Homo sapiens: one gene and its partners. The protein of the gene in region 1 purifies or fractionates together with the protein of each later gene. This does not show direct contact. Each region holds a gene or a part of one and is shown in the gene's direction. Other genes may lie near its edges.

Region 1 (3,747 bases):
TTTCTCTAGTACCCTGTACTGTTCTGTCATCTTCATCATCATCATGTTATGTTTACCTTCAAAAGCACCCAGAATCCATGCAGCCCCTGGCTTTCCCTGCTGCAGTTCCCCCTGCTTTTTTGTTTTTGTGGTTTTTGAGACAAAGTCTCCTTCTGTTGCCCAGACTAGAGTGCAGTGGCACAGTCTCAGCTCACTGCAACCTCTGCCTCCTGGGTTCAAGTGATTCTCCTGCCTCAGCCTCCCGAGTAGCTGGGATTATAGGCGTGCACCACCACGCCCGGCTAATTTTTGTATTTTTTTAGTAAAGATGGGGTTTCACCATGTTGGCCAGGCTGGTCTCGAACCGCTGGGCTCAAGCAATCCACCCACCTCAGCCTCCCAAAGTGCTGGGATTACAAGCAGGAGCCACCGCGCCTGGCCTGATCCCTCTGCTTCTTGCTTTCTCCCACCACTTCTCTCCTTACCCAAGTGCTGCAGGCCTGCACATGCAGCTCATCCTCGCTCCTCCCCTTAGAGGGAACTCAGGGTCATAAGGATATACTGCTGGGAGTAGACACCCTGCACTCGCTGCTGCTTTCAGCTGCAGGAGATCCTAGCCACAGGCGGTGACTCAGGCAGAGGAGCAAGCCCACCCCGCAGAAATGGGCTCTGGACCCCTGTGACTGCATGGAGCAGGAGGAGGCAGTTAGTGTCCAAGCTAAGGCAGGGTGAAGGCTGTGGAGGTAGCGCAGGCTCCTGTTTGGGTCTGCAGCTAAGATGGGTCTGAATCCTGGAGCCACACCACCTTGAACCTGCAAAGCAAGTCCCAGAATTTTGCAGAAGTTCTTCCTCTTCAGTGTATAGAGTTGGGTGGAGGGAGTATAGAGCCATCATTCAGTCCTTCTCATCTCACCCAGGATCACCTGGGAGTGACCAAAGTAGGCCAAATGTGATTCTAGGGCCAAAGTGAAGGTGTCCGCCATTCCCCGAGTAAGCAACTTCCTGTCTATTGGCTGGTAACTGGGATGGCTTTGGAGACACAGCCTGTCTCAGAAGAGAGGAACAGCTAACCAGGAGTGATAATTCACTCAGTGCCAGTAGCACATACTGTTCTAAATCTGAAGAAGGTAGGGAGGGTTAGAAAGCAAAGGGAAGACAGTGGGGACTAAGAATGAGTGTGGGATGTCATGAGGATTCAGGGGAGAATGCAAGGAGAAGAGACGGCCACAGGGTTTGTGGCTATGCCGCCTGCCGTGGCCCACCTCATCCCCACATCTGAGCCCAGGCAGATGGAAGTCCCCTGCAGAGCAGTGTTCTGTCCTGGAGTTTCCTCCACACCCCTTCTTGGGACCAGGGCTGTTTCCCAAATAGCATCACTGTTCCCGTGCAGGCCAGGTGAGGTGCCTGGGAGCAGGGGTAGGGTGAGGCAGGCATGGCGGTGACCTCTCAGGCAGCTTCGTTGTGGGATTTAGGGCACAGCGGGAAACGTCCAGGGCAGAGGTTGCCTCACCAGTCACATGGTACTATGTAGGCGGTGGTGTTTAATAGATTCTGTTTATCAATAAGTGGATGAAGTGGAGATAGACTTCCTTGTTCAGTCATTGAAACAGGAGAGAGGGTTACTTGACATAATCACTTTGTGTTAAAGCTGTAGTGTATGAAAAGTTCCCAAAAATTCTACAAGACAAGCAACCTAGCAGGAAAATCAGAACAGGTAACAGTAAGACAAATACGAATGGCCTGAAATCCCGACAGGTTTTTCAGTCTAACCAACTCAAAGAAAGCACCTTAAGTTGCAATGCCATTTCACCTGTCAGATGGGTGGGGAGGACTTGGTCCTCCCACCACCAGGGGTGAAAGGGTAGTGTGGGCCAACACTTCTTAATGTGTGATTCTTTTTTTTTTTTTTTGAGACAGAGCCTGGCTCTGTCGCTCAGGCTGGAGTGCAGTGGCACACGATCTCAACTCACTGAAACCTCTGCCTCCCGGGCTCAAGCGATTCTCCTGCCTCAGCCTCCCAAGTAGCTGGAATTACAGGCGTGCACCACCGTGCCTGGCTAATTTTTGTATTTTTAGTAGAGATGGGGTTCCACTGTGTTGGCCAGGCTAGTCACGAACTCCTCAGGTGATCCTCCCGCCTCGGCCTCCCAAAGTGTTGGGATTTCAGGTGTGAGCCACCACACCTGGCCAAGTGTGCATTTCTTTTACCCTGCATTCCCACTTCTAGGAACGTGTCCTGTGTAAGTACTTGCTCAGCATGCTCAGAGATTCCCATGCCAGCTTATTTACTGCAGGACTGCTCATAAGAGCAAAAATAGGAACGTGCCCATCTGTGGGGAACTGGTTATGTAAACTGTGGTAGAGCCATATGGTGGAATACTCTGGAGTCATTGAAAAGGATAAGGCTGGTTTATATATATATTAAATAAGTTCCTGACAAGTTGGGGATCCCATTGTTTAAAATCCTTATGTTTCATAGAAGGCACCGGAAGAGTCTATACCGAAGGACTCAGGGGCTAACTCTGAGGAGCAGGATCATGGTTAAGGAGGCTGTGTCATAAGATCCTGCATACCCTTCTGTGTTTTTCTCAACAAGTCTGCACTACTTCCATAATTTGAAAGGCAACTGTACTTTTTTTAAGGGTAAAATTAACTGTTTAAAAGGGGGGTGAGGATCTGGCAGGTGAGGGGCCCTGGAGACAGAGCCTGATCATGTGTCCAGAGCAGAAGGGCTTGGAGATCACAGAGACCAGGGCAGGCATCCCAGGTCTGTCACTGTGAGCTGTAGCCCTCGCCAGTGCCATCACTTCTCCAAGTCTCATTCTCTTCACCTTTATAGGCTGTGTCCTACCCAGCCTGAGGGCCAGCCAGGTGAGAGTCAGTGGGGGTATGTGACACATCGCAGGTCTCAGCACCTGCTAGTTCTCTGCCCCATCCCCATGAGTTATTACTTTGGCCTCGGGAGTCCCCTGAGGGACCCATAAGGACAGCGCACAGCTTTGAGCCCTGAAACAGCAGGAAGGCTCCACAGTCACCCCTGACCACCCTCCTCAGCAGTTCAGCACTGACTCTCAGTGCAGATATTGAGCTCAACACCTGCCATGCACCTTCTCACCCTCCCCCCAGCCAGGCAGGACAGACCTTCCCATCAACAAGGAAACTGAGGTTACCAGAAACCCACTTGCCAGGGTCCCCTGGGCGTGTAGGAGTAGAGACAGCTAGAGCCAGGATTCACCTCCCATTCCCATTCTCATCCCTCCTGCTTCAGTGACATCCATCCCAATCACCCTTGAGAAAGAGGAAGATAAAGTGTCCTTCCTCCTGGCCTCAGCACCTCCTCACTTGGCAAGCACTTGGTGGGCATCAGGCTGGGCCCAGCACTGTGCCCAGGGCTGGCCATACAGTGGTGGACAAGGCTGAGTGCCTGTCCCAAGGAGCCCACAGTTCAGGCAAACAGGACAGCAGAAGTAAAGAGGCTGCTCAGTAACCCAGCCTCAAATCCCTGCAGAATTTGGCCTGACTTCAGAAGCTGCTGGGTGCTTGTTTGCCTGTGAGCTCTGCCAGCAAAGTAAATAGACCAATCGGGCGCCTCCTGGCTGTCTTCACAGCCATGACAACGGCATTCTCCCAGCATTGGAGGCTAGATATGCAGGAGAGCTCTCAGCCACAAATGATGTGAATAAGGTCAATAGTGTCTATTTGCTGAACTTGTCATCAAAGATGGTGAAACTGATACTTTACTCTCTGGGTGAGAGGGCTAGTGTTTAC
Region 2 (3,747 bases), on another chromosome or scaffold:
TGCTGCCACTGAAGGCTCAAAACAACACTGCACAGCCTTGTGTGTCCTCTGTGTGTCGGCAGTTTCCCCCGGCTCTGCAGCAGCCCAGGCCAGGTAGCCTCTGGAGGGAGTGGTGGAGGAGCACGGGCATCCTGGCCGCCGCTGTGTTGGGGACAGACCCTGGGGCCTGGAAAGGGAGGTGGGGCCCCGTGGGGGCTGCTGCACCACAGGCAAGAGAGCAAGAGACAGCAGAGGCCGGCCAGGTGGTGGCACAGCCGCTAGGGACCAGGCCGGCCTGTGGAGGTATTGGGATGGGGACCAGCGGACTTGCTGGCAGAGGGGCCTCAGGGCTGCAGGCTTCTTGGACTGAGCCACTGGGAGGACGGAGTTGACCTTCTTTGAGACAGAAAAAGTGTGCATCCCGGGGCTGCCTGTGAAAGCTCATCTCTAAAGTGTGTGTTGTTCTTCCAGCCACCCCTTTGCTGTGAAGTTGCTTGCGCTCTGTAAGAAAGAAATCAAGAATTCAAAAGATATCCAGAAGCTCCTGTCAGGCATCGCAGTGTGAGTTTCAAGTGCTGCTGGCCTTAGACGGAATGGCAGGGCGCAGCCTCCCTTGGCTGAGGGCAGGAGTCCACGGCTCCAGGCGGGAGAGGAGCAGTTAGTGTTACTCCTCAAGCTAACCTAAGATCGTGCATTCCAATGTTCAAAGCAGTCGCAATGGGAGGTGAGGCAGCCCAGGTGCTGGTGGAGGGAGTTCCCGCGGGAACAGGCGAGCTCTGCCTCTGCTGCCCTCGCGCTCTGCCCTGGCGGGAGGGGAGGCTCCGGAAAGGAGCTGCGTGGTCAGGGGCTGCCTCCCCGATTCTCCTGTGTGCCCTGGGGGTCGCTGTTGAGTGCCTTGCTCTGCGGCGCTCAGGTGGACACTGGGCAGGTGCGCCAGCCAGCGATAGGCACCTTGGCTGCTCTGTGGCTCCTTGAGGTGGGGGTCCTCATGGCAGGGCGAGCGGCCCTGCAGGAGATCCTCTGTGAGGCGTCCTCACTTCCCACAGTGACTTTCCAAGTGCGACACTCGTGTGTGTAGGCACAGTGCAGATGTACGCACACACACACCTCCGGCTTGGGGCCCCAGGCCCGCACTGTGCTCACGGATCTGCTCTGCCCAGGTCTCTGCATGGGCCTTTGGGTCCGGGGTTTGCTGGGGTTGGCCTGCGCGGGGTGGGGCTCACCTGGAGCCATGTGCTGCTCCCGGCAGGTTCTGCGAGATGGTGCAGTTCCCCGGCGACGTGAGGAGGCAGGCCCTCCTGCAGCTGTGTCTGCTCCTCTGCCACCGTTTCCCGCTGGTGAGTGCCTGCCCCTGCTCACGTGTGTTTGCCGTGTGGACACAAGCCCCTCAGTGACAAGAAGGCCTTCGCTGGCACTGTTGTGTTGGTGTGCTTTCCAGCCGAGCCCCTCTCGTTAACGCGCCTGGGTGACGACGCGTCACAGGCACGCGGCTGCCAAGGGGCTCTGGACGCCACTGTTCTGGCTTTAAGGACGGGCTGTCCGGCTGGCGTTTCTATGGACATACATTGAGGGGTGACCTGGCGGTGGGATCTGGCTCAGGAGCTTCCAGAAGGACCCAGGCTGAAGTGGTTCAGCCACACCTAGGGGCAGTGCCCTTCATCCCCAGCACTCCCCGGCTATTAGATTTCTAGGATTTCTTTTCTCCTGGCTGCAAAAAAAACCTCAGATGATACAAAGGTGACATTTTCCTAAAAGGCAAAAGTAACTTCATGTTGTATGGTGGTTCTCGAAGTGGGGTGCCGGACCCTCAGGCTTGGCACCTCTGGGGCTTCAGCAGTGCAGCTCTTGGGCCCTGTGCTGCCGACTCAGCACCTCCAGGGTGGGCCCGGGGCTCAGACCACCAGCGCAGTGAGACATGATGACCAGGGCACCACTCAAAAAGAGAGCAGGCGAGATTGCTTCCCTGATGAAAAGAGAGCAGGCGAGATTGCTTCCCTGATGAAAAGAGAGCAGGCGAGATTGCTTCCCTGGTGAAAAGAGAGCAGGTGAGATTGCTTCTCTGGTGAGGGAGCAGGTTGGTTAATAGATAGCGGGCGAGATTGCTTCTCTGGTGAGGTAGCAGGTTGGTTAATAGAGAGCAGGTGAGAGTGCTTCTCTGATGAAAAGAGAGCAGGCGAGATTGCTTCTCTGGTGAGGGAGCAGGTTGGTTAATAGCAGGCGAGATTGCTTCTCTGGTGAGGGAGCAGGTTAGTTAATAGAGAGCAGGCGAGATTGCTTCTCTGGTGAGGGAGCAGGTTGGTTAATAAAGCATTTAAACAAGAATGATGTCATCTTCACTGCTGGGATCCTGCAGCTAGCTGTGTGTCTGTGGAGGGAGGAGGTGGTTAATGGGCCTGGAAGGCACCTCCTCTTGGTTGCAGCCCTGCTGTGGCTGGGATGGGATGCAGGGTCAGCGTCCTCCTCCTGACGCCTTCCACTGACGGGGCTCCCTGGCCTGGGTCCTGTCGTCTCTCCGGGGTGGGGCGGTGGCGCTTCCCTCCGGCAAATGCACTGCATCCCTGTCCCAGATCCGGAAGACCACGGCCAGCCAGGTGTACGAGACATTGCTCACCTACAGTGACGTCGTGGGCGCGGATGTGCTGGACGAGGTGGTGACTGTGCTCAGTGACACTGCGTGGTGAGTGAAGGCCCTTCCTGCACGGCCACCTGGGCCTGGCACCGCCCCTCTTCCTGTCCCCACCGTGTCTACTCGTCTCTCCCAAAACCCTCTGATAGGAGGAGGAAAGAGGGTTCCCAGGTCTCCACATCCTCTGCTTAGGTTTTACAAGGCAGCCGTGCTGCTGTAGCCGAAACCTCTTCTCAACCGCCCTGTCCCCAAACAGTGTCAGGTGTCAGGAACACAGCAAAGCCATCCATCCCACCAGGGGAGCGGGCACCTGTACCACAAGGCTGTGTCTGGTGGCCTGTGGAGCAGAGGGCACTGAAGGCCTGGCAGGTGCTGCTGCCCCAGACCTCTCTAAAGTTCTCTTGGAATAGGCCGTGTGAGCACCTGTTGGAAATCAAGAGGCACAGGCGGAAATAAGAAAAGCTCTCCCCACGCCTCTGCTCTGATGTCCACCCCCTTCCTCAGGGCCATGAGGCCCTCAGGAGGCCATAGTGCCACTCTCCACGTTTACTTTGGCAGGCACAGTTTCTGCAACATGGGCTGGCTTCTTTACCATGGGTGGAGTAGAATGGCGGTTTTGAAAGATGTGTGTATTGAGTTGGGGGTGGGAGGGTCTGAATGAGAGCAGAGTGGGGAAAGTGCAGGCTCAGGTGTCCTGGGCCAACCGGTATGTTCCTGGGAACAGCAGTGATGGTGTCTTACACATATGGGCATGGGCACCCATGCTGGCTCACACACATGCTCACTTGCACGCGCGCACACACACACACACACACACACACTTCTAAAAGGGGAGCAGTCTCGTCACCCCGTGTTGGAGATCAGGACTGAAGCAACCAGAGGCTGTGTGGGTGTCCACATGGCATACCCGGGGTGGTGGAGTCCCAGGTGTCCTGCCTGTGGATGCTGCTCTGTTTTGAGTGCCGACTGTGAGGGCCTCCGTGCTGATCCCGGTGCGTTGCTACAGGTCTGTGGGGTCCACGCCCCTTGTTGAATCCAGCAAGGACGTAGGTGACGTTCCCTAGGTGTCTCCTCGGAACAGTGACCTTCCAACAGGGCTGGGTTCCCATAGAGCTCACGCACCAGGCAGCCGCTGTGGCCTC
Region 3 (3,747 bases), on another chromosome or scaffold:
TATTAAAAACACTAGCCAGGCATGGTATCACACACCTGTAGTTCTAGATAATTGGGAGGCTGAGGTGGAAGGATCGCTTGAGTCCAGGAGATCAAGACTGCAGTGAGTGGTGATTGCACCACTACACTTCAGCCTGGGCAATAGAATGAGACTCTGTCTCTAAAAATAAAATGGGCACAATAGTATCTATCTCATGGTTTTATTGTGAGGATTTCCTGGGCTAACTAATGTGATTGGTGCACAATAAGTGCTCGATAAGTGTTAGCTGTATATTTATCATTGTCGTTACGAGTGATACTATGTGAGTTTATGGTGAATCATGGGTATGCCCTTTATCAGATTGAGTTTTGCTATACTCGACAATTTGCCAGATCTTCCAGAATGCAATTAAGTTGTTAGGGTGAACTCTACATATCTATACATATTACTTCTTTATTTCCTTTGCTTTTTAATTCTTAGCACTGATGCATCTGAGATTAAGGAAGTGTTTTTCAAGATTGGCATTTTGGGCCAGATAATTACAATTTTTTTTTTTTTTTTAAACACAGTCACACTCTGTTGTTCAGGCTGGAGTGCAGTGGCACGATCCTGGCTCACTGCAGCCTCCACCTTTTGGGTTCAAGTGGTTCTCCTGCCTCAGCCTCCCGAGTAGCTGTGATTATGGGTATGCACCACCATGCCCCAGCTAATTTTTGTATTTTTAGTAGAGACGGGGTTTCACCATGTTGGCCAGGCTGGTCTTGAGCTGCTGACCTCAAATGATCCGCCTGCCTCGGCCTCCCAAAGTGCTGGGATTACAGGTGTGAGCCACCATGCCCAGCCTTGGGCCAGAACATTTTTTTTTTATTTGAATGTATAGCAATGCTAATGTTGCCCTGTGCATTGCAGAATGTTTGCCACTATACTGAGCCTTATCTCTAGATTCCACTAGCATCTCCTCAGTTTTGACAACCAAAAATATCTCTAGATATTTCCAGATTTCCCCCAGGGGCCTAAATTCACCCCTGATTGGGAACCACTGGCTCACTATCTTGCATTATAGATACAAACATTCACAGTTGTCCCCAGCACAGCTCATGATGAAGACAAAGCAGTTAAAAAACTGAGGTGCAATATATTCAGTTTGGTACACTGCAAATCTTAGTTTTGACACCTATACCCATTCCATACCTCACAAGACCTAATGATTTAATTTTTCATTTTAGCTCTTTTCATATTCTGTGTATTAATGGTACTACTTGTGAGTCTCTAAATCAACCCTGAACTTCATGTTATTTTTCGATTTTTTAAATCATTTTGTCTTTATGTCCGGTAACAATGTGTTTTAGAAATGAATACTTAATTTGGGTTTGTTTGGTTAGAAGTTCCCCAGTTAATATTAAGTCCATCAAGACTGCAGCCTTAAATTGAAATGTTTTTTTGGTTTGATTCTACAGTTGTAAAAAACCACACTTTTTATGGTTTCACATTTTATAGACTTTGAGTATAAAATAATATGTAAACAGTGAGTATTAGTGATCTTGCCTAAAATTGTTCTTTGAATTTGTTTTAATGAGGTGTCTTAATAGGCCTGGTAATATGACTGTATATTGTAAAATTATTTAATAATTCTGACAGTGTGAAGTTTTCAGTTTCGTAAAGCTCTCAACATTCCATATTGTTAATAAGCAGATGTCGGTTTGTTTCTAAGTGTATTTGTAAGTTTAAGAGAGGTATTTTTTGTGGTTCACAAATTAGATTCACATTCGTAATTACTAACTTTGTGCTTTTCTCTGTTTTGTAGGCATATGGTTGATGATATGCTAAGTGCAGATGATGTCAGTTGTAGTAGCTCCCAGGTTAGTGCAAAATCAGAAAAAAATATGGCTGATTTTGATGGTGAAGAATCTGGATGTGAAGAGGAGCTAGTTCAGATTAATTCACATGCGGAACTGACATCTCACCTCCAACAACATCTTCCCAATTTAGCTTCCATTTACCATGAACATCTTAGTCAAGGTAAGACTCTACAGTAAGTAAAATATATTACCTTCTTCACAACAGGAATAATTTATCTTACTTTGTTGAAAGGACTCAATAGTTAAGGTTATGGTACTTAAATGTTTTTGTCAAAATAACTTACATATGGTAGTTTTTTTTTTTCCCCCAAGGGAATTAAATTATTATAAATAGTCCATCATGAATATAAATAAGTCCTGCAGTTCTATTGAGATATTCAGCGGGGAAAGAAAATATATAGCAATAATATGTAATAATTAAAGCTCTATATTTTAGAAAATATATGGTTGTATTAGAATTTATACTCAGAAATCCTAGGACCTAAAAGTATAGGAAATCACAAAAGATAAAATTGTATGATTCCATTTATATGATATGTCTAGAATAGGCAAATCTGCAGGCAGAAGGTTAGTGGTTGCTTGGGGTTAGGGAAGGGTAGGAGGGAATAAGGAGGGGCGAGTGTGAGAAATGATTGTTCAAGTCTAAATCACTCTTAAAGTAATAGGACATGACCAGACTTGAAAGAATGGAGGATGGAGGAAGGTAAAGAGTAGTAGGGAATTAATGAGTAAAGCAAGAAAAAATAAGAAAGTGAAAAACAGTTTTAGAATTGGCAGTTTAAAGGCCTTAAACCTCTTGTTTGGTTGGTATCATCAACATATGCTGGCCTAGTAAATGGGTTTTGGATAGCCAGTACATTATAAGTAAACCGGATGGATTACGTTTATGCAAAGAGGCCATAAACACACTTAGAAACACAACTTGTGGACCTTGGCAACAATTTACTGATTTGTATGTGTTTTTTGTACATGATCTGTCTAGGTTAAGTTACTTTGACTTATTTTATTGTTGTGCTGTTGTGGTTGTTGAGAAAGGAATAGGTTAGATTGAGGTCATCTGACTGAATGTGATGCCATATTTGTAAATTGTTACCATTCTTTTCTCAAATTTTCCTTTAATCAATATTTTACCTATTTTTTACTGCGTGGAGTTAGAAATTGAACAAAATGGTTTTCTTTTCACAACCCATTGTAGACAGAATAAAATGATAGTATATGTTAATGCTTTCCAAATCTACCTTGTTTTACAATGTTTTTAGTACTAGAAGACCTCCTCCAACAGAGTAAGACAGTCAGTTTAAAAATGGGCAAAAGTGTTGATCAGATACTACATAAAAGATGATACATAGAAATGGTCAATAAGGGCTGGGCATGGTGGCTCACACCTATAATCCCAGCACTTTGGAAGGCTGAGGTGGGCAGATCACTTGAGGTCAGGAGTTCGAGACTAGTCTAGCCAACGTGGTGAAACCCCATCCCTACTAAAAATACAAAAAAAAAAAATAAATTAGCTGCGTATGGTGGTGCTCACCTGTAGTCCCAGCTACTTGGGAGGCTGAAGCAGGAGAATCGCTTGAACCCAGGCTGTGGAGGTTGCAGTGAGCCGAGATCACGCCACTGCACTCCAGCCTGGATGACAGAGTGAGACTCCGTCTTAAAAAAAAAAAAAAAAAAAAAAGGAAACGGCCAGTAAGTACACTCTCAGTGTCTCTTGTCATCTAGTAAATATAAGTTAAAACCACAGTGAGGCACTACTACATACCTATTGAAATGAGTAAAATTAAGGACTGATACTATCAAGGATTGACATTAGAATGTGGAGCTGGAACTGTCATAACTTGCTGTTGAACATAAAATATAATCACTTTGGAGAACTGTGTGTTAGTCCATTATTGTGTTGCTATAAAGA
Region 4 (3,747 bases), on another chromosome or scaffold:
TTCTGCACATGTATCCTGTTTTTTTTTTTAGAAGAAATAAGAAAAAAAGTGTACAATTTAATATATTTTTAGTATATTCACCAGGTTGTACAACCATCACCAGAATCAATTTTAGGACATTCTCATCACTCCATAGAAAAACCCTGTACCTGTTAGCAGTCACTCCCCTCTGTCCCCAACCCAAAAACCCTCTCCCCACCACAGCCCTAGGCAACCACTAATCTACTTTCTCTCTATATAGATTTGCCTATTCTGGACGTTTCATATAAATGGAATCAGATCACAGGAGGTCTCTTATGATTGACATCTTCCACTTAGCATAATGTTTACAGGTTCATCCGTGTGGTAACATGCAGCAATACTTCAGTTCCTTTTACGGCCAAATAATATTCCATTGTGTCTTTGGTTTTTAATGCAGAAAAATATCCTTGTGGATTATGGACTCCGACGAATCACATTCTTGATTGCCCAAGAGGTTAGTTCACAGTTCATCTCTATGAGTCTTTCCCATTCTCCAAGCCTTGGTGTGTGCCATTTATTTGATATTTATTTTGTAGATTTGGGTGAAAGAGATCATTAGAAAGGAGAAGGATTTCCAAATGATTCATTCTAGAAGTGAATGTAATCGTTTACAATCACTAAATAAGGATGTACATATTTCAGTGCGTCTTGCTTGATTTAATTGTCTTGTGTGTGGATTTCTTTTTGCAGAAAGAATTTCCCAAGTTTTTCACATTCAGAGCAAGAGATGAGGTATGGCCAAAAGTAATGATGTTTTCTCTTCTCTAGCATCTTGTTTTATTTTTTAAGAGATGGGATGGGGCCGGGTGTGGTGGCTCAAGCCCGTAATCCTAGCACTTTGGGAGGCTGAGGCAGGAGGTTTGCTTGAGCTCAGGAGTTCTAGACCAGCCTGGGTTATATAGTGAGACCCTGTCTCTACAAAAAAATTAAAAAATCAGCCTGGCATTGTGATGCAAGCCTGTGGTCCCAGCTACTTGGGAGGCTGAGGTGGGAGGATTGCTTGAACCTGGGAAATAGAGGTTTCAGTGAGCCAAGGTGATTCCACTGCACTCTAGCCTGGGTGACAGAGTGAGACTCTGTCTCAAAAAAAAGGAAAAAAAAGAGATGGGGTCTCACTATGTTGCCCAGGCTGGACTCGAACTTATGGCTCAAGCGATTCTCTTGCTTCAGCCTCCCGAATAGCTGGGACTATAGGCACATGCCACCGTGCCTCCCAGCTCCCTGGCATCTTTGATATTCATGAAGAATATAGTCTGCAGTCCTTAAGGCATCCCCATATTCAAGAATGTAGCAACTTTTGTGTAGACTGCAGTCTTCCTCTGGGATTGTATTTCCATTGAGAGCCCTCTGTTCCCTGCATGGCACTCAGACCTGAGAATCTTGCCCTTTCAGCCTCACTACAGGTTTCTGTCTTGCTTGAATAATTTTCAGTACTTGCTGATGTACTCAGTAAGACATTTTTTCCAAACTGTTTTTCTTATGCTCGTCTAGAACAGTGGTTGGCAAACTCACTTGCAGACCAGCTGCCTGTTTTTACGAATAAAGTTTTATTGGAACACAGCCACACCCGTTGGATTCCACATTGTCTACTCTGGCTTTCACTCTAACAGTAGCAGAATTGAGTAGTTGTGACAGAGCCCGTATGATCCATCAGCCTAAAACATTTACTCTCTGGCCATTTAAGAAAACGTTTACCGATCCCTGTTGTAGAACAGGTAGGTTTATTCCCAGCACTGATTCAAGACCCCACCAAATTCAGCATTTTGCATTTTAATTTATCCAAAGCTTTATTTTTCTAGCTAAGACACATCCTTTTCTTAATGTCTTCATTTTTTTTTTCAGTTTAGTTTCCAGTACTGTCAGTTGCTTTCTTTTCGGGGACCAATTTCCACCAAGAAACCAGGGGTTAGTGGCTTCATGAGAATTGCCACAGGCTGTGACAGATGGAGAACAGCCTGGTCACGCTGGCAGGTGATAGGGACTAGCTAGGTTCCCCCAGGAGCCAGCGCTGCACCCAGCACAACAGGCTTGCAATGCCCATAGCTCTCCTCAGATCTTAGCAAAACCCCAAATATCTGGAGCCCTGGGGGTAGCTTACAATTAGGGAACATCATGAATGCTGCATTCCTGAGTGCCAAACCCATGGACACCAGGGGTCTGCAGAGTAGGGTGTGGACCAAGCAGGGACGCAGCTCCAACGTCACGCTGTGTGTGTATGTGTCTGTCTTCTCTCTCTGGTCCGCCTACAGTTTGCAGAAGATCGCATTTACCGTCACTTGGAACCTGCCCTGGCCTTCCAGCTGGAACTTAACCGGATGCGTAACTTCGATCTGACCGCCGTGCCCTGTGCCAACCACAAGATGCACCTTTACCTGGGTGCTGCCAAGGTGAAGGAAGGTGTGGAAGTGACGGACCATAGGTTCTTCATCCGCGCCATCATCAGGCACTCTGACCTGATCACAAAGGTAAGATGTCGCAGAGCATTTCTTCCTCTCTCAGAACCTGGCCCTCCCTTCCTTACATTCCTGCTCTGTGCTGGGTCCTGGGCTGCATGCTGGGGATGGAGAGTACACCAACACCCAGGGTCCTGCCCTTGCTATGCTCCAGTCCAGGGCAGGAGGCGGACAGCAAAGTGGCCTGTGATCACGTCCAGGCTGGTGGCACTTGGATCTGTTTCTTGTATTATGTGGGTCTCTGCGCATGAGAAGAAAATTTCCAGGATAGAAAAATACTGGTTTGTTCAGGGAATTTCTTAATATTTGCTGACTGAGTGATCGTTTTCCATTGTTTCTTGCATTTAGAAAAGTAATCCATGGCCGGGTGCAGTGACCCATGCCTGTAATCCCAGTACTTTGGGAGGCTGAGGTGGGCGGATCACTTGAGGTCAGGGGTTCAAAACCAGCCTGGCCAACATGGTGAAACCCTGTGTCTACTAAAAATACAAAAATTACCTGGGCGTGGTGGCGTACACCTGTAATTCCAGCTACTCAGGAGGCCGAGGCATGAGAATCGCTTGAACCTGAGAGGCGGAGGTTGCAGTGAGCTGAGATGGAGCCCTTGTACTTCAGCCTGGGGGATAGAGTGAGACCCTATCACAAAAAAAAAAAAAAAAGAAAAAAAGAAACAGAAGTAATCCATGATTATATTGTGAAAATTTTAAATAAGACTGAAAACGATTTTTAAGAACCTAGCGCAAGGACCGAGAATCCTGTCACTGAGGGGCCAGCTTAGTTGTTGACTGTTTCTAGACACAATTCCGTCCCTGAAACCTAGAGTTGTAGGCATAAGTTGCAGATAAGAGCTGAGAGTGGACAGATCATTTGAATATATTATTCTTTAATTGGTCAGTCACTTGTGGACCTCTTTCATTGTTAATAAAGAGTGGTCCACCACATATTATTTCCTTGCATGGATGTACCGTGTATAATTTTTTTTTTTTTTTTACTAATCCCCTATTGATGGAAACATATATATATTATTATATATATAATTATATATAATAATATATATAATATATTATATAATATAACATATAATATACATAATATAATATATAATATGTTATATAACATTATATATACATAATATAATACATATTATATGTATTTATATAAATATATATTTATATAAATGTATATATAATTATTATATATATATATTTTTTTGGAGATGGAGTTTTGCTCTTGTTGCCCAGGCTGGAGTGCAATGGCACAATCTCAGTTCACT
Region 5 (3,747 bases), on another chromosome or scaffold:
TGGGGCTCCTGACATCCCAGCCCCTGACCTTGACCCTTGACCCTTGACCCTGGGTGCTGCAATTCAGACACACTTTGCCCCCAGGGGGATCTCATTAACTTTGAGAAGAGGAGGAAGGTGAGTGGAGGCTACAGTGGGTGTGGTGGTGCCTGAGGGTGGGGGTGGGGCAGGGGTAGGGTCTTAGAGGCTCGTCCTCCAGGAGTGGGAGATCCTGGCCCGCATCCAGCAGCTGCAGAGGCGCTGTCAGAGCTACACCCTGAGCCCCCACCCGCCCATCCTGGCTGCCCTGCATGCCCAGAACCAGCTCACCGAGGAGCAGAGGTGACCACCCTGTAGCCTGTCCCAGCCCCACCCCAGCTGAGCCTGGGTCACCAACTGGATTCCACCCACTCCATACACACCTCCAGCTCCTCCCAAGACCCCCTCTTGAGCCCTGATCCCCCACTACAACCTGTGACCTTGCAGTATCTCCAGTCGAATCAAATAGACTGGGCCTGGTGGTTTACTCGTGTAATCCCAGCACTTGGGAGGCCAAGGTGGGTGGATCACTTGAGCCCAGGATTTCGAGACCAGCCTGGGCAACATGGCGAAACCCCATATCTACAAAAAAATACAAAAATTAGCTGAACGTGGCTGGGCACGGTGGCTCACACCTGTAATCCCAGCACTTTGGGAGGCCGAGGCGGGTGAATCACATGAGGTAAGGAGTTTGAGACCAGCCTGGCTAACAGAGTGAAACCCCGTCTCTACTAAAAATACAAAAAAAAAATTAGCCAGGTGTAGTGGCAGGCGCCTGTAGTCCCAGCTACTTGGGAGGCTGAGGCAGGAGAATGGCGTGAACCCGGGAGGCAGAGCTTGCAGGGAGCCGAGATGGTGCCACTGCACTCCAGCCTGGGCAACAGAGCGAGACTCCGTCTCAAAAAAAAAAAAAAAAAATTAGCTGAATGTGGTGTTGAGTGCCGTTGGTCCCAACTACTTGGGAGGCTGAGGTGGGAGGATTGCTGGAGCCTGGGAGGCAGAGGTTGGAGTGAGCCAAAATCACGCCACTGCAGTTCCAGTCTAGGTGACAGAGTGAGACCCTGTCTCAAAAAAAAAAAAAAAAAAATAGTCACAATTGACCTCTGACCTCAATTTCAACCCCATCTGATTTTCTGACCTCAACTTTAGCATTCAGCTGGCCATTCAACTCAACTGTCCCATCTGTTGACTTCCCCATCTTTGGTCCTATCTGACCCATGACCTTATTCATGACCCCTCATCTGACTCTCTGACCCCAACCCTTGACCCTCAGTTCTGAGTAACTGACTCCAACTTTTATGTTTGACTGTCCAGCTTGACTATGACAACTGTGTCCTTTCTTTCTATATAACTGTGACCCTAACCATTGACCCCAATGGTGACCTGACCCCAGTCTGACCCTGACTTTATTTTATTTATTTATTTATTTATTTATTTATTTATTTATTTATTTATTTTTGAGACAGAGTCTGGCTCTGTTTCCCAGGCTGGAGTGCAGTGGAGTGATCTCGGCTCACTGTAGCCCCCGCCTCCCAGGTTCAAGCAATTCTACTGCCTCAGCCTCCCCGGTAGCCGCAATTACAGGCGCGAGCTACCACACCTGGCTAATTTTTTTTGTATTTTTAGTAGAGACGGGGTTTCACTATATTGGCCAGGCTGGTTTCGAACTCTTGACCCGAAGCAATCCTCTCGCCTCAGCCTCCCAAAGTGCTAGGATTACAGGCGTGAGCCACTGCACCCAGTCCTGACCCTGACTTTAATCCTGACCCAATTTGATTCCTTAGTGCCACCCTGTGAATCTCTTTGTGACCTCCTGACCAGCCATCCTGTCCCATCTCTGATAAGACCTTGATGCTCAATGACCCTCATTTACCACCCTGACCCTGGCATGTGGGGTGCCACCTCTGGCTGCTCCCCCTTACACCCCAAACCCACCTCCCAACTGATTCCAACTCTTATCTCTCCATCCCCTGTATTTCCTGCCCCCACCACCTCATCCACATATTGACCCCTCAGCTACCGGCTCTCCCGGGTCATTGAGCCACCAGCTGCCTCCTGCCCCAGCTCCCCACGCATCCGACGGCGGATCAGCCTCACCAAGCGTCTCAGTGCGTGAGTCTCGGGGTGTGTGTAGGGGCGGTGATGTGGGCAGATATCAGCAAGGGCTGCTCCTGCCTTAGCCTCATCCCCTGTCCCCATCCTTAGGAAGCTTGCCCGAGAGAAAAGCTCATCACCTAGTGGGAGTCCCGGGGACCCCTCATCCCCCACCTCCAGGTGAGCATTCTGCTTGGTGATGGGACTGGGGATCATGGGATCAGGAGTCAGCACAGCCACCCCACCTCAGCCTCTGCATCTCCCCCAGTGTGTCCCCAGGGTCACCCCCCTCAAGTCCTAGAAGCAGAGATGCTCCTGCTGGCAGTCCCCCGGCCTCTCCAGGGCCCCAGGGCCCCAGCACCAAGGTACCAAGACGGCTTGTGTGTGCATGCGGGCCTGCGGGCACCCAGGCTCTGTGTGTGTGCACGTGTGTGTGCATGCACATGTGTACACACAGGATTGTGGGGCCAGGAGTGTATACAGGAGGCACACTGAGCGCCCGGGGTATCCATCCAGGGGATTGCATGCATCTGCACGGCCCTGTTTGGGTGATCACTCATAAATCCGACTCGTGCTCAGATTTGGACCTGTGTAACTGCTTGCCCATGGGTCATCTAGGGTGCAATCACATCACACCCCTTTTTATTTGAAACAGGGTCTTCTTGCTCTGTCACCCAGGCTGAAGTGCAGCGGTGCAATCTCAGCTCACCGCAACTTCCACCCCTCCCCCAGGCTCAAGCAATCCTTCCACCTCAGCCTCCCAAGTAGCTAGGACCACAGGTGTGCACCACCATGCCCTGCTATTTTTTTTATTTAGTAGAGATGAGGTTTCGCCATGTTGCCCAGGTGGGTTTCGAACTCCTGAGCTCAAACAATGCACTCACCTCGGCCTCCCAAAGTGCTGGGATTACAGGTGTGAGCCACCGCACCCAGCCTACACTTTTTTGAGGACATGTATGTCCCTAAGAATCTGCATACCATGGCAGACACGGTGGCTATTGCCTGTGATCCCGGCACTTTGGGAAGCCAAAGTGGGAGGATTGCTTGAGGCCGGGAGTTCAAGACCAGCCTGGGCAACATAGTGAGACCCTATTTCTATTAAAAGTCAAAAAAATTAGCTGGGTGTAGTCCCAGCTACTCAGCAGGCTGAGGTGGAAGGATCGCTTGAGTTTGAGGCTGCAGTGAGCTACGATCATGCCACGGCACTCTAGCCTGCATGATAGAGCGAGATCCTGTTTATGAAGAAAAAGAGACTGGGCACGGTGGCTCACGCCTGTAATCCCAGCACTCTGGGAGGCCGAGGTGGGCGGATCACGAGGTCAAGAGATCGAGACCATCCTGGCCAACGTGGTGAAACCCTGTCTCTACTGAAAATAGAAAAATTAGCTGGGTATGGTCGCGCACACCTGTAGTCCCAGCTACTTGGGAGGCTGAGGCAGGAGAATCACTTGAACCCAGGAGACGGAGGTTGCAGTGAGCTGAGATGGTGCCACTGCACTCCATCCAGCCTGGTGACAGAGCGAGGCTCCCTCTAAAAGAAAAACAAAAAAAGAAAAGGAAATGAAGGAAATGAAGGCTGGGCATGGTAGCTCATGCCTGTAATCCCAGCACTTTGGGAGGCCGAGGCCAGTGGAT
Region 6 (4,504 bases), on another chromosome or scaffold:
CAGGTGGTCTACAGAGTTGACCGGGTGAGAACACCTACTCTGGGTTCATCAGTGGGGATTGTTCCCTGGGCATACATTTGGTTGAGAGGGCACCAAGGTGGATGTGTACTGGCAGGCAGTAACCTTGCAGGAAGGCTAGACTCTTCCTAGGTCCCCTGGAGCTAAGGAGGCAGAAGTGAGAGGCCCAGGAGGATGCATCTCTTAGGCCAAGTGGTAGTAGCAGACAGTGTTTGGAGCAAGGTTCACTGGTAACCACGAATAAGGACAGACAGCAGTCAGGCCTGGGAACTTCCCCCAACAATCACTTTTTGTGTGATCACAAAAACCTTTTTGTGAAATCACAGGTTTCACAAATCGTCAGCTGCAGGGTCAGGTAAGAACAGCAATCCTTTCTATGCATCAATGGGTTTCCTCTGGGAACTTGGGGGAGGGACGGAAAGAGCCAAAGACATTTAACCAGGTCTGCATCTTGGTCACTTGTCTGGATATATTTTGGGTGTGAGCAACTGAGCCAGGTACCTGAATGCAGGAGATGAGCGGCTCTGGCATATGGGAGGGAGTAGAGAGACAGCATCTCCCTCCTCCTCCTGACAGGGCAGGGAGGATTTGACCACTCTGCACCCACCACACTCAGTTTCCTTGGCCTCACAGCTCTTCCTTTTGCCCAGAGTTGAATCATTAACTGGAACCTAATCCGAAGACAGGTGTTTAAAACTGTCATGGTTACAGCCATCAAATTACAGGAGGTTCACACACAGCAGTCAGCAATGGTTTGGGAATATTAAATAAATGTGTTTCTCTAACAGGACAAGACAGGATCATTTATTTATGCAACTTAAAAGCTGTCCCAGAAGGAGAAAAAAGTAGCGTATTATTTGTCCAAAATAAACAAGATTGAAGAACTGAACATCTCTCTGTGGATCAATTTACAGATCACATGGAAATATGCTTATCTTATTGAGAAATATTCCATTTTAGATGTTCAAATACCTTAGCATATTTTAAAAACTATTTCCTATGTGACCAAAAGAATTCATGTTCTATTCGGTAAAAATTAACCAAAATTAATGGTGCTTTCCAATGGACGCAGGAAACCTTTTTTCTTTACAAAACATGCCCACCCTTTTTTTGTTGCTACTTCCCACATTGAATTCTTGTTTTACTGAATTTTCTTACTATAAAAATAAAGCATGATGATAGTTTTGAAAACAAAACAGAAGTATTTGAGAAGTACAGACCCCACTCCCACTCCTTGTCTCCTTTCTGACACTCTGCCCCTTAACTATACTGGAACAGGGAGTCAACTGCAAGGAAAATCCTGGGGACTAGGGGCTGAGGAACTAGAGGTGGAGAGATGGAAGAGTGTCCAGTAGCCCAGGAAAGGATGAAACAATTCCCCAACAAAAAAGTAAAAATTTTCAGTAGCCCTCCGAGAAGATGCAGCCCCTCCCAGGTAACCAGAGAAAGGCAAATTGTGAAAGCAGGGAGAAGGGGCTACTTTAGGCCTCCAGGACTACAAAGACAAAAAAATGAGTGACAGGACCTGATGTGGTGGGGTGAGATGGGAATGGAAGTAAAGGAGGGGGCTCGTACTCTTGGTGGGAGTGGAAATTGGGGACCCAAGCTTACTGGCGATGCAGCCCTCACGTGACCAGGAGCTGACGTGGGCAAAGGTACTTAAAGCCCTGACCGTCGTTCTCCGTCCTCCTCTGGGTACCAACTCTATTGCGCAGCTCGCTGCCGTGCGTTTAACCCAGGCGAGGAGGAGGAGGAGAAAATTCCCCCAGATTCGGGCAGGTGGGTGTGAGGGTGGGCACAGTCTGGGACCCCTGAATAGGGGTAATCTAGGGATGCGGGAGTCGGAGGCCGCGGGTGCCTCGGTCTCCCCCACTCCTGGCCGGCTTTCCAGACCTGAGGTGCTCAAACGCGGCTCATTTTGGTGGGCGGTGGGGAAAGGGGGAGGGGGAAACGAAAAGACTTTTGATAGACTTTACGAAGAATCCGCTTACTTCCTTTCCAGCCAGTGTTTTTTGGTTTTGTTTATAATATTCAGGCCCGCACCCCACATTCCGTCCTGTTTTGAGAGGAGGAGGGAAGAGAAATAAACGTGGCAGCGCATAGAAGGCCAGCAGGGAGGTTGGGAAAGGGTAACCAGGAGGCGGGGGTGGGGCATGCAATTTGGTAACAATCTGGGCGGCACACTCCCACCCTGACTTTCCCCACCACCGCCCCGGCACCCTCCCATCCCCCAGCCGACCCTCTGTGATTTGGGAGTGCTGGGAAATGGGTGTACCAGCTGCTGTTGGAGAGGTGGCGGGTTTGGCGCTGTCTGGGCTTCACGGGAGGTGGGGGGGAGGGGGCGGACCCTGAGAGAATCTGGTATTAAACCGCCTTGTTAACTCGCAGACTGCTTTCCAGACACCTCCGGCCCACACAGCCGTTCACCCCCCGTCTTTTCAGTCCTGGAAAAGGAATTCGGGTATGCAGGCGGGAGAAATGGCGGTTGTTGGGGGGATTTGTGGGAAGTGGGAGGTAGAGCCCATAGCAGAGAAATCGTGGAAAATCTCGACCCTGAACCCGAAAAGGCAGACGTTGAGGCCCCTCTTCTGCAGGCTAACGCTAGGCCTAGGGGCTGGGGAGCGAAAGATGGGTGATCCTGGGAGGGGAACACTGAATTGTTTGGCAGGAGTCCCCCATACCGCGTCCCATCCAGCTTTTGCTGCACCCTCGCCCCGCTCCCCTCCCGCTTCGTTGCAGGAGAAGGGGTGTGGCGGTGTGTCCTGGAGAAATGGCGGACGGGGGCGGGGCAAAGCGGAAGGAGGGATTGAGTGCCTGGGGAGCCTGCGCAGGAGGAGGATTGAGGTGGGAGGGGTGGGGTGAGAAGAGTTGAAGGAATTGAGAGGTAGAATCATTTGACATTCTGATGTGCAAACACGAAAAGGCAGTTACTGAGACCCTTGTCCTGGATGCTGATCCATCCACCAGGCTTTCATTGTCTAACGTCGACAGTCTATATTTCTGCTCTTCAGTCTGTCCTTAGGATGAAGCTCTAACTGAACTGAAGTAAGGAGAAACAGCCTTGAATCTTTGGAGGGTCAGTGCTGGGGTTGGAATTGTCTGGGGCCCCCTGGTGTGGGTGTGGCAGAGACAAGAGTAGAGTATGGGACCAGAGGCTCCTCCTGCATCTTCTCTCTTTTAATTTCAAAGACACCCTTGCCCCAGGCCCTTTCTTTTTGGTGCAGAGAAAGGGGCGTGGCATCTGCCTTAGTTAATATTTGGGGGAGGAGAGGCTGAAGAGGAAAAGAGGATCCCTGAGGGGGGAAAACCTTTGACCCACAGGGGCCCAAATCAGGAAAAGAACCAGAATTCGTCCACCAATGGCTCAAAAACGCCCTTTCTGATCTGTCCTCAGGTCTGTCTTCCTTTTGGGCTCTGTGCAACTGCAGCTACAGTGGAAAAAAGCAAACTGCTCTTGATCCCAGGTTGGTATGTGCATGAGCACCATGTAGGGGCCTTGGGGGTAGGGGGTGGGGCATCATAGCAGAATCTGAGATCTCTACTGTTTTTCCAGCTCTCTACCAGCTTTACCCATGTCTGTACTGCCTCTCGTCCTTCCATTTAGATGCTGGAAGTTGTAGGCATTGGCAGAGCAGGCTAAGGTTGAAGATGTAGAAAACGTTAAACTAGGTCTGTGAATCAGCAAACACAGGCCTTGACACCTGTGTCTGGGTGCTAGCCCGCCAACGAAGCATTGTGTCCCTAAACTCTTCTCTAAGTAGAACTGGTTAGACACGAAGTGAGCCAGAGCCCTAAGCCTCATTTTTATCCTTTACCCCTAGGCCCTGCCTAAGCCTCAGCAGAACTTGTAAGCCTAAACTGAAGAGCCTCACCCGGACGAGCAGGCATCCCTTAACCTTAAGCAATCCAGTTCCACGCCCTGGATCAGTGAATAACCCCAGCTGCACCATGAGCCGCGTTCGGGATGCTGGCTGTGTAGCGGCGGGGATAGTGATAGGGGCTGGTGCCTGGTACTGTGTCTACAAATACACCAGGGGGAGAGACCAGACCAAGAAGAGAATGGCCAAGCCCAAAAACCGGGCTGTGGCTGGGACTGGAGCCAGGGCTAGAGCTGGGCTAAGAGCCGGATTCACAATCGACCTTGGGTCAGGATTCAGTCCCCCAACCCCAGTCCGTGCTGAAGCAGAGGACAGGGCCCAGGATGAAGCCTCTGCTCTGGACACAGTTGGAGCTGAGGCAGTGGCCCCAGCTGCATCCAGCGCTGAGGCTCAGAGTGGGGCAGGCAGTCAGGCCCAAGAGGCAGATGGAGCCGGGGTTGGGCCTAAGGCCGAATCAGTAGTTGGGGCTGCAATGGCTTCTGCAATAGCACCACCTCCCGGGGTGACAGAGGCCCTTGGGGCTGCAGAAGCCCCTGCAATGGCAGGGGCTCCCAAAGTGGCAGAAGCTCCCAGAGAAGCGGAGACTTCCAGGGCAGCGGTGCCTCCTG
Region 7 (4,178 bases), on another chromosome or scaffold:
CTCCACCTCAAGCGATTCTTGTACCTCAGGCTCCCGAGTAGCTGGGATGACAGGCATGTGCTACCACACCCAGCTAATTTTTGTTTTAGTAGAGACAGGGTTTCGCCATGTTGGCCGGGCTGGTCTCGAACTCCTGACCTCAAGTGATCCACCATGCTTCGGCCTCCCAAAGTGCTGGGATTACAGGCATGAGCCACTTTATGCGTATTTAAGCCTTGGAAACACAGGGACTATCTTGTGGATTGGGGCTAGTACAGAATTCAGACTGCAGCCTTTTCCCGATGCGTTGACTTACAGAAGGGGCATTTTGGAGGGTCTGTGGTCCTAACCTGGGGATAGCAGGGAGATCCCGGGGCAATGACAGAGAGGCACAGAGACACGGATTTCCTGAGAAAGGGAGAGGAGAGAGGCTGAGACCCAGGGATCATGAAGGGGACGAGCAAGGGAAGGAAGAGATGATGAGACCCTGGGAATCCGGGAGAGAGACAGGGACGTGGAGAGAAAGGGACAGAGAGAGAGCGAGAAGGAAAGGAAGAGACAGAAGGGAGAAGGGGCAACCGAAAATGGGCACGAAGAGGCCCAGGCACAGCAACAGCTGGGGAAATGACAGAGACTGAGACGGAGATGCAGAAAGATACAGAGAGAGCTGGAGAGGGTAGAGAAGGGCTTTCGGGGAGAAAGTGATGGAGGGACAGAGAGGAGAGGTGGAGGCCAAGGAGGGAAAGACCCCAGTAGAGAAAGACAGAGGGACAGAGAAGGGGATGCAGACGCAGGCGGGAGCACACCCACAGAGGCGAAGGAAGGGCGCAAGACCATGAGAACCACAGACGCGGAAAGCCGGGGAGGTCGTGGCTCGGTCTAGGGCGCACGGGGAGCAGGGCTTGCCCCCCAGCACCTCCGGGGAGGTGACCCCAGCCGGGAGATGCGAGTCCCGCGGAGCCCGCGCCCGGCGGACGGACCGATGGACAAAGCCGGGGAGAGCTCGGGCGCGGCCGGGGCGGGGGCCGGTGCCCGCAGGGACCCGGGCGCAGCGGGGAAAGGAGGGGCGGGCAAGCGGCGAGAAGGGGAAGGAAGCGGAGGTGCCGGGCGGGCGCGGGGCGCGGGCAGGAAGCGGGGAGGGGCGGCGGGGCGGGGGCCTCCGGAAAAACGCCCCGACTTCCTGCCCCGCCAGAGCCAGGAAGCGGGAGCCGGGACCCAGGGCCCGGGATCGCCGAGCCCGACCTCGGGCGCCCCGCCGGTCACCTCCGCGCGGACACCAGGTACTCGGTCCCCGGCCCCGCCCGGCCTCCTCCCCTCGGCTGTTGGGGGAAGTGGGGAGGAGGAGGGAGGGGCTGGGGCGCTGCCGGCAGCGGAGGGGCCCCCTTCGGACCCCACGGAACCAGCGGCCGCCCCTCCTTGGGCCTCAGTTTTCCCATCTGTCAAAGGGAGCAAAGAGGGGAGAACTCACACTTGACGAGTGCCCCATAGGTGGGGACGAACGGTGCGAGGCCGGGGCCAAGGCCTCCCACCTGCTCAGTGGAGAACGGACGATCACTACCATTGTACGGGTGGGGAAACCGAGGCCCGGGGAGCCAAACCGACTCGTCCCAGGGAACGCACATCGTGAGAAAGTGTGGAGTTGGGATTTGAACTCGCACGTGCTTTCCGCAAAGCGCCATCCTCCAACCCCCGCATGCTTTAGGGCCACCTAAAAATGAAAAACAACAATAACAACAACGACGAGGGTCGCTGTGAAGCTGAAAGTTGCAGAGTGCATTTGAAAGAGTTTTCGGAAAGCTCTTTTCTAGGTCATTAATTATACCGTGAGAGACAGGTGTAGGGAGAGAGCTGGAGGCCTTCTCCCATTGTACGGATGGGAAGACTGAGGTCTACAGAGAAGTCATTACTTTTTGCAGATTACACTGCATGTCAGAGGGAAAGTTGTGCTGGAACTCAAGACTATTGCTTTTCCGGTTCCAAAGGAAGGGGCTGGGGGTGGGAGACGGAGGGGATTGATGTACGAGGATTGGAAATTCAGCGGGTCCCCTAAGTGGGGAGACTAATAGGACGGGGAGCCCCAGTCCGCCGTCCGAGTGCTCAGCGCTGGGGTGACTAGGAGATCTCCGATCGAACTCGGGAGGAGTTGGACCCATCTGCACCTCCGGGCGCGGGGCGGGGCCCGGGGAGTGACGGGGGCAGTCGAGATACGGAAACGCTGGCCCTCCAAGACAGGCCAGAGCGGCCCTATCTGGCCTGCGTGGCGCAGTACAGCGCTAGAGCGGCCGGCGGGAGGAGTAGAGTCGTCGGGGCCGGAGCCCGGCAGGAGCCGGGCTAGAGCGGCTGGCAGGAGGAGTGGAGCTGGGCGCAAAGGTGGACTCAGGGCGGCTAGAGCGACGCGGCGGCAGGGGTGGGGAGAGTGCGGAGCCCGAGCGCGGAGGCTTCGGTTCCGGTGGCGGCGATGGCTTCTCTTTCCACCTGGAGCAGGTGAGGGACGCGGTCCCCAGCGGGTGTCAGACCCTGACTCTGCACGTCCTCCCCGGCATCCCTGGCCGTGCACACTGCCACGTCCCCCGTAGGATTTAGGGCCCGCGTAAGACCCGCCACGTCCATGTAAGATTTGGGTCTCGTGTAGACCCGCCTCATTCCGTATAAAGTCTTACAGACCCTCCAGGTTCCTGCCAGCCCCCCATGGAGAACTGGCTTCTTATAGACGTGGGGTCCTCATAGACCAGTGGCATCCCCTAGAATCCGGGGCTCTATAGACCATGGGTCTCGGGACCCACCACGCACCCCTATGGAATTCTGAGTCCCTTTTAAGTCTCCAGAGGTTCCACAGACTGGCAGCTGTCCCTATAGAATCATGATCCTGTATGATCCCTGGATCCTTTAGACCCACTGTGTGTCAAATAGAATCTGGGGAGTTACACATTCCAACGACTCTTTTAGGTTCTTTAAGGCTCCAGAAGTTCTTGGAGACCCTGAGTCACCTGCTCAACACATTATAGACCCTGAGACCTCCATAGAACTCAACACCCATGTGGCCCCCCAACCCATGGACCTTCTAAACCAGCCCTAACCCCCCAGCGCCCCATGCACGCAGTGTTCCCTCTGCTGGACCCCCCAGGCCTTGTCAGTTGCCTATAGATCCATCTATTCTCTGACAGCTTCACCTATAATTCTCCAGCCTTTGTGGGACTCCCCCAAACCCCTCCTCCTAAACAGGCGACACTCCTCGCCTCCATCATCTCCAACCCCCAAGCCTCTGTGGAGCAGCCGTATCCAACTTGCACTCCTGCCTAGGCCATAGTGACCACATACCCGTGACTTTTCCAGGCATCCATAAGAAGACATGATGTGTCTCAGAGCTTTGGTTCAGATTTTAGTTTCTGAAGGGTAGGGTGGGGGCTCCCCATGCTCTGAAGCAATGCTCTCTGTTTTATTTTGTTTTATTTATTTATTTATTTATTTTTGAGACGAAGTCTCACTTCTGTTACCAGGCTGGAGTGCAGTGGCGCGATCTCAGCTCACTGCAACCTCCGCCTCCCGGATTCAAGCGATTCTCCTGCCTCAGCCTCCCGAGTAGCTGGGACTACAGGCTCGTGCCACCACGCCCAGCTAATTTTGGTATTTTTAGTAGAGACAGGGTTTCACTATGTTGGCCAGGATGGTGTCGATCTCTTGACTTCGTGATCCGCCCGCCTTGGTCTCCCAAAGTGCTGGGATTACAGGCGAGAGCCACCGTGCCTAGCCTATTTTATTTTAAGACAAGGTCTCACTCTGTCGCCCAGGCTGGAGGGCAGTGGCACAATTTTGGCTCACTGCAACCTCTGCCTCCTGGGCTCAGGCGATCCTCTCATCTTAGCCTCCCAAGTAGCTATGACTACAGGCATGAACCACCACACCTGGCTATCTTTTGTAGAGATGGGGGTTTCACCATGTTAGCCAGGCTGGTCTCGAACTCCTGAGCTCAAGTGATCCACCTGCCTTGGTCTCCCAAAGTGCTGGGATTACAGGTGTGAGCCACTGTGTCCACCAAATGCAGTTTATTTTAAATGCGTAAACTCTGTAGCCCAACTGCCCAGGTCTGAGTCCTGGTTCTGCCTCTTATGAGCTGTGCCTCAGTTTCCTTCTTTGTTAAATGGAGGTGAGAATAATAATGATCTCTTGGAGTCACCGAGAGGATTAAATGAGTTATTACC

The links.
Region 2: the proteins of PPARD (region 1) and TBCD purify together in Homo sapiens (affinity purification with mass spectrometry; one large-scale study listed by BioGRID and IntAct). This does not show direct contact.
Region 3: the proteins of PPARD (region 1) and USP34 purify together in Homo sapiens (affinity purification with mass spectrometry; one large-scale study listed by BioGRID and IntAct). This does not show direct contact.
Region 4: the proteins of PPARD (region 1) and ACACB purify together in Homo sapiens (affinity purification with mass spectrometry; one large-scale study listed by BioGRID and IntAct). This does not show direct contact.
Region 5: the proteins of PPARD (region 1) and RGL3 purify together in Homo sapiens (affinity purification with mass spectrometry; one large-scale study listed by BioGRID and IntAct). This does not show direct contact.
Region 6: the proteins of PPARD (region 1) and ARMCX2 purify together in Homo sapiens (co-immunoprecipitation; one large-scale study listed by IntAct). This does not show direct contact.
Region 7: the proteins of PPARD (region 1) and ARHGEF1 purify together in Homo sapiens (affinity purification with mass spectrometry; one large-scale study listed by BioGRID and IntAct). This does not show direct contact.

The regions. Positions count from the first base shown.
Region 1 is NC_000006.12:35,411,811-35,415,557, forward strand, and holds part of PPARD (peroxisome proliferator-activated receptor delta), read left to right. Parts: intron 1-3,747. UniProt on the Homo sapiens protein: Ligand-activated transcription factor key mediator of energy metabolism in adipose tissues. Receptor that binds peroxisome proliferators such as hypolipidemic drugs and fatty acids.
Region 2 is NC_000017.11:82,936,821-82,940,567, forward strand, and holds part of TBCD (tubulin-specific chaperone D), read left to right. Parts: intron 1-450; coding exon 451-540; intron 541-1,228; coding exon 1,229-1,316; intron 1,317-2,546; coding exon 2,547-2,656; intron 2,657-3,747.
Region 3 is NC_000002.12:61,342,066-61,345,812, reverse strand, and holds part of USP34 (ubiquitin carboxyl-terminal hydrolase 34), read left to right. Parts: intron 1-1,783; coding exon 1,784-1,998; intron 1,999-3,747. UniProt on the Homo sapiens protein: Ubiquitin hydrolase that can remove conjugated ubiquitin from AXIN1 and AXIN2, thereby acting as a regulator of Wnt signaling pathway.
Region 4 is NC_000012.12:109,234,895-109,238,641, forward strand, and holds part of ACACB (acetyl-CoA carboxylase 2), read left to right. Parts: intron 1-418; coding exon 419-475; intron 476-711; coding exon 712-753; intron 754-2,270; coding exon 2,271-2,486; intron 2,487-3,747. UniProt on the Homo sapiens protein: Mitochondrial enzyme that catalyzes the carboxylation of acetyl-CoA to malonyl-CoA and plays a central role in fatty acid metabolism.
Region 5 is NC_000019.10:11,398,585-11,402,331, reverse strand, and holds part of RGL3 (ral guanine nucleotide dissociation stimulator-like 3), read left to right. Parts: intron 1-84; coding exon 85-117; intron 118-199; coding exon 200-321; intron 322-2,034; coding exon 2,035-2,130; intron 2,131-2,223; coding exon 2,224-2,292; intron 2,293-2,362; coding exon of another isoform or gene 2,363-2,380; coding exon 2,381-2,477; intron 2,478-3,747.
Region 6 is NC_000023.11:101,657,051-101,661,554, reverse strand, and holds the start of ARMCX2 (armadillo repeat-containing X-linked protein 2), read left to right. Parts: upstream 1-1,704; 5' UTR 1,705-1,797; intron 1,798-2,020; exon of another isoform or gene 2,021-2,053; 5' UTR 2,054-2,136; exon of another isoform or gene 2,137-2,147; intron 2,148-2,406; 5' UTR 2,407-2,479; intron 2,480-2,941; exon of another isoform or gene 2,942-3,029; 5' UTR 3,030-3,094; intron 3,095-3,412; 5' UTR 3,413-3,482; intron 3,483-3,836; exon of another isoform or gene 3,837-3,839; 5' UTR 3,840-3,966; coding exon 3,967-4,504. UniProt on the Homo sapiens protein: May regulate the dynamics and distribution of mitochondria in neural cells.
Region 7 is NC_000019.10:41,882,031-41,886,208, forward strand, and holds the start of ARHGEF1 (rho guanine nucleotide exchange factor 1), read left to right. Parts: upstream 1-1,153; 5' UTR 1,154-1,259; exon of another isoform or gene 1,260-2,437; coding exon of another isoform or gene 2,438-2,463; intron 2,464-4,178. UniProt on the Homo sapiens protein: Seems to play a role in the regulation of RhoA GTPase by guanine nucleotide-binding alpha-12 (GNA12) and alpha-13 (GNA13) subunits. Acts as a GTPase-activating protein (GAP) for GNA12 and GNA13, and as guanine nucleotide exchange factor (GEF) for RhoA GTPase.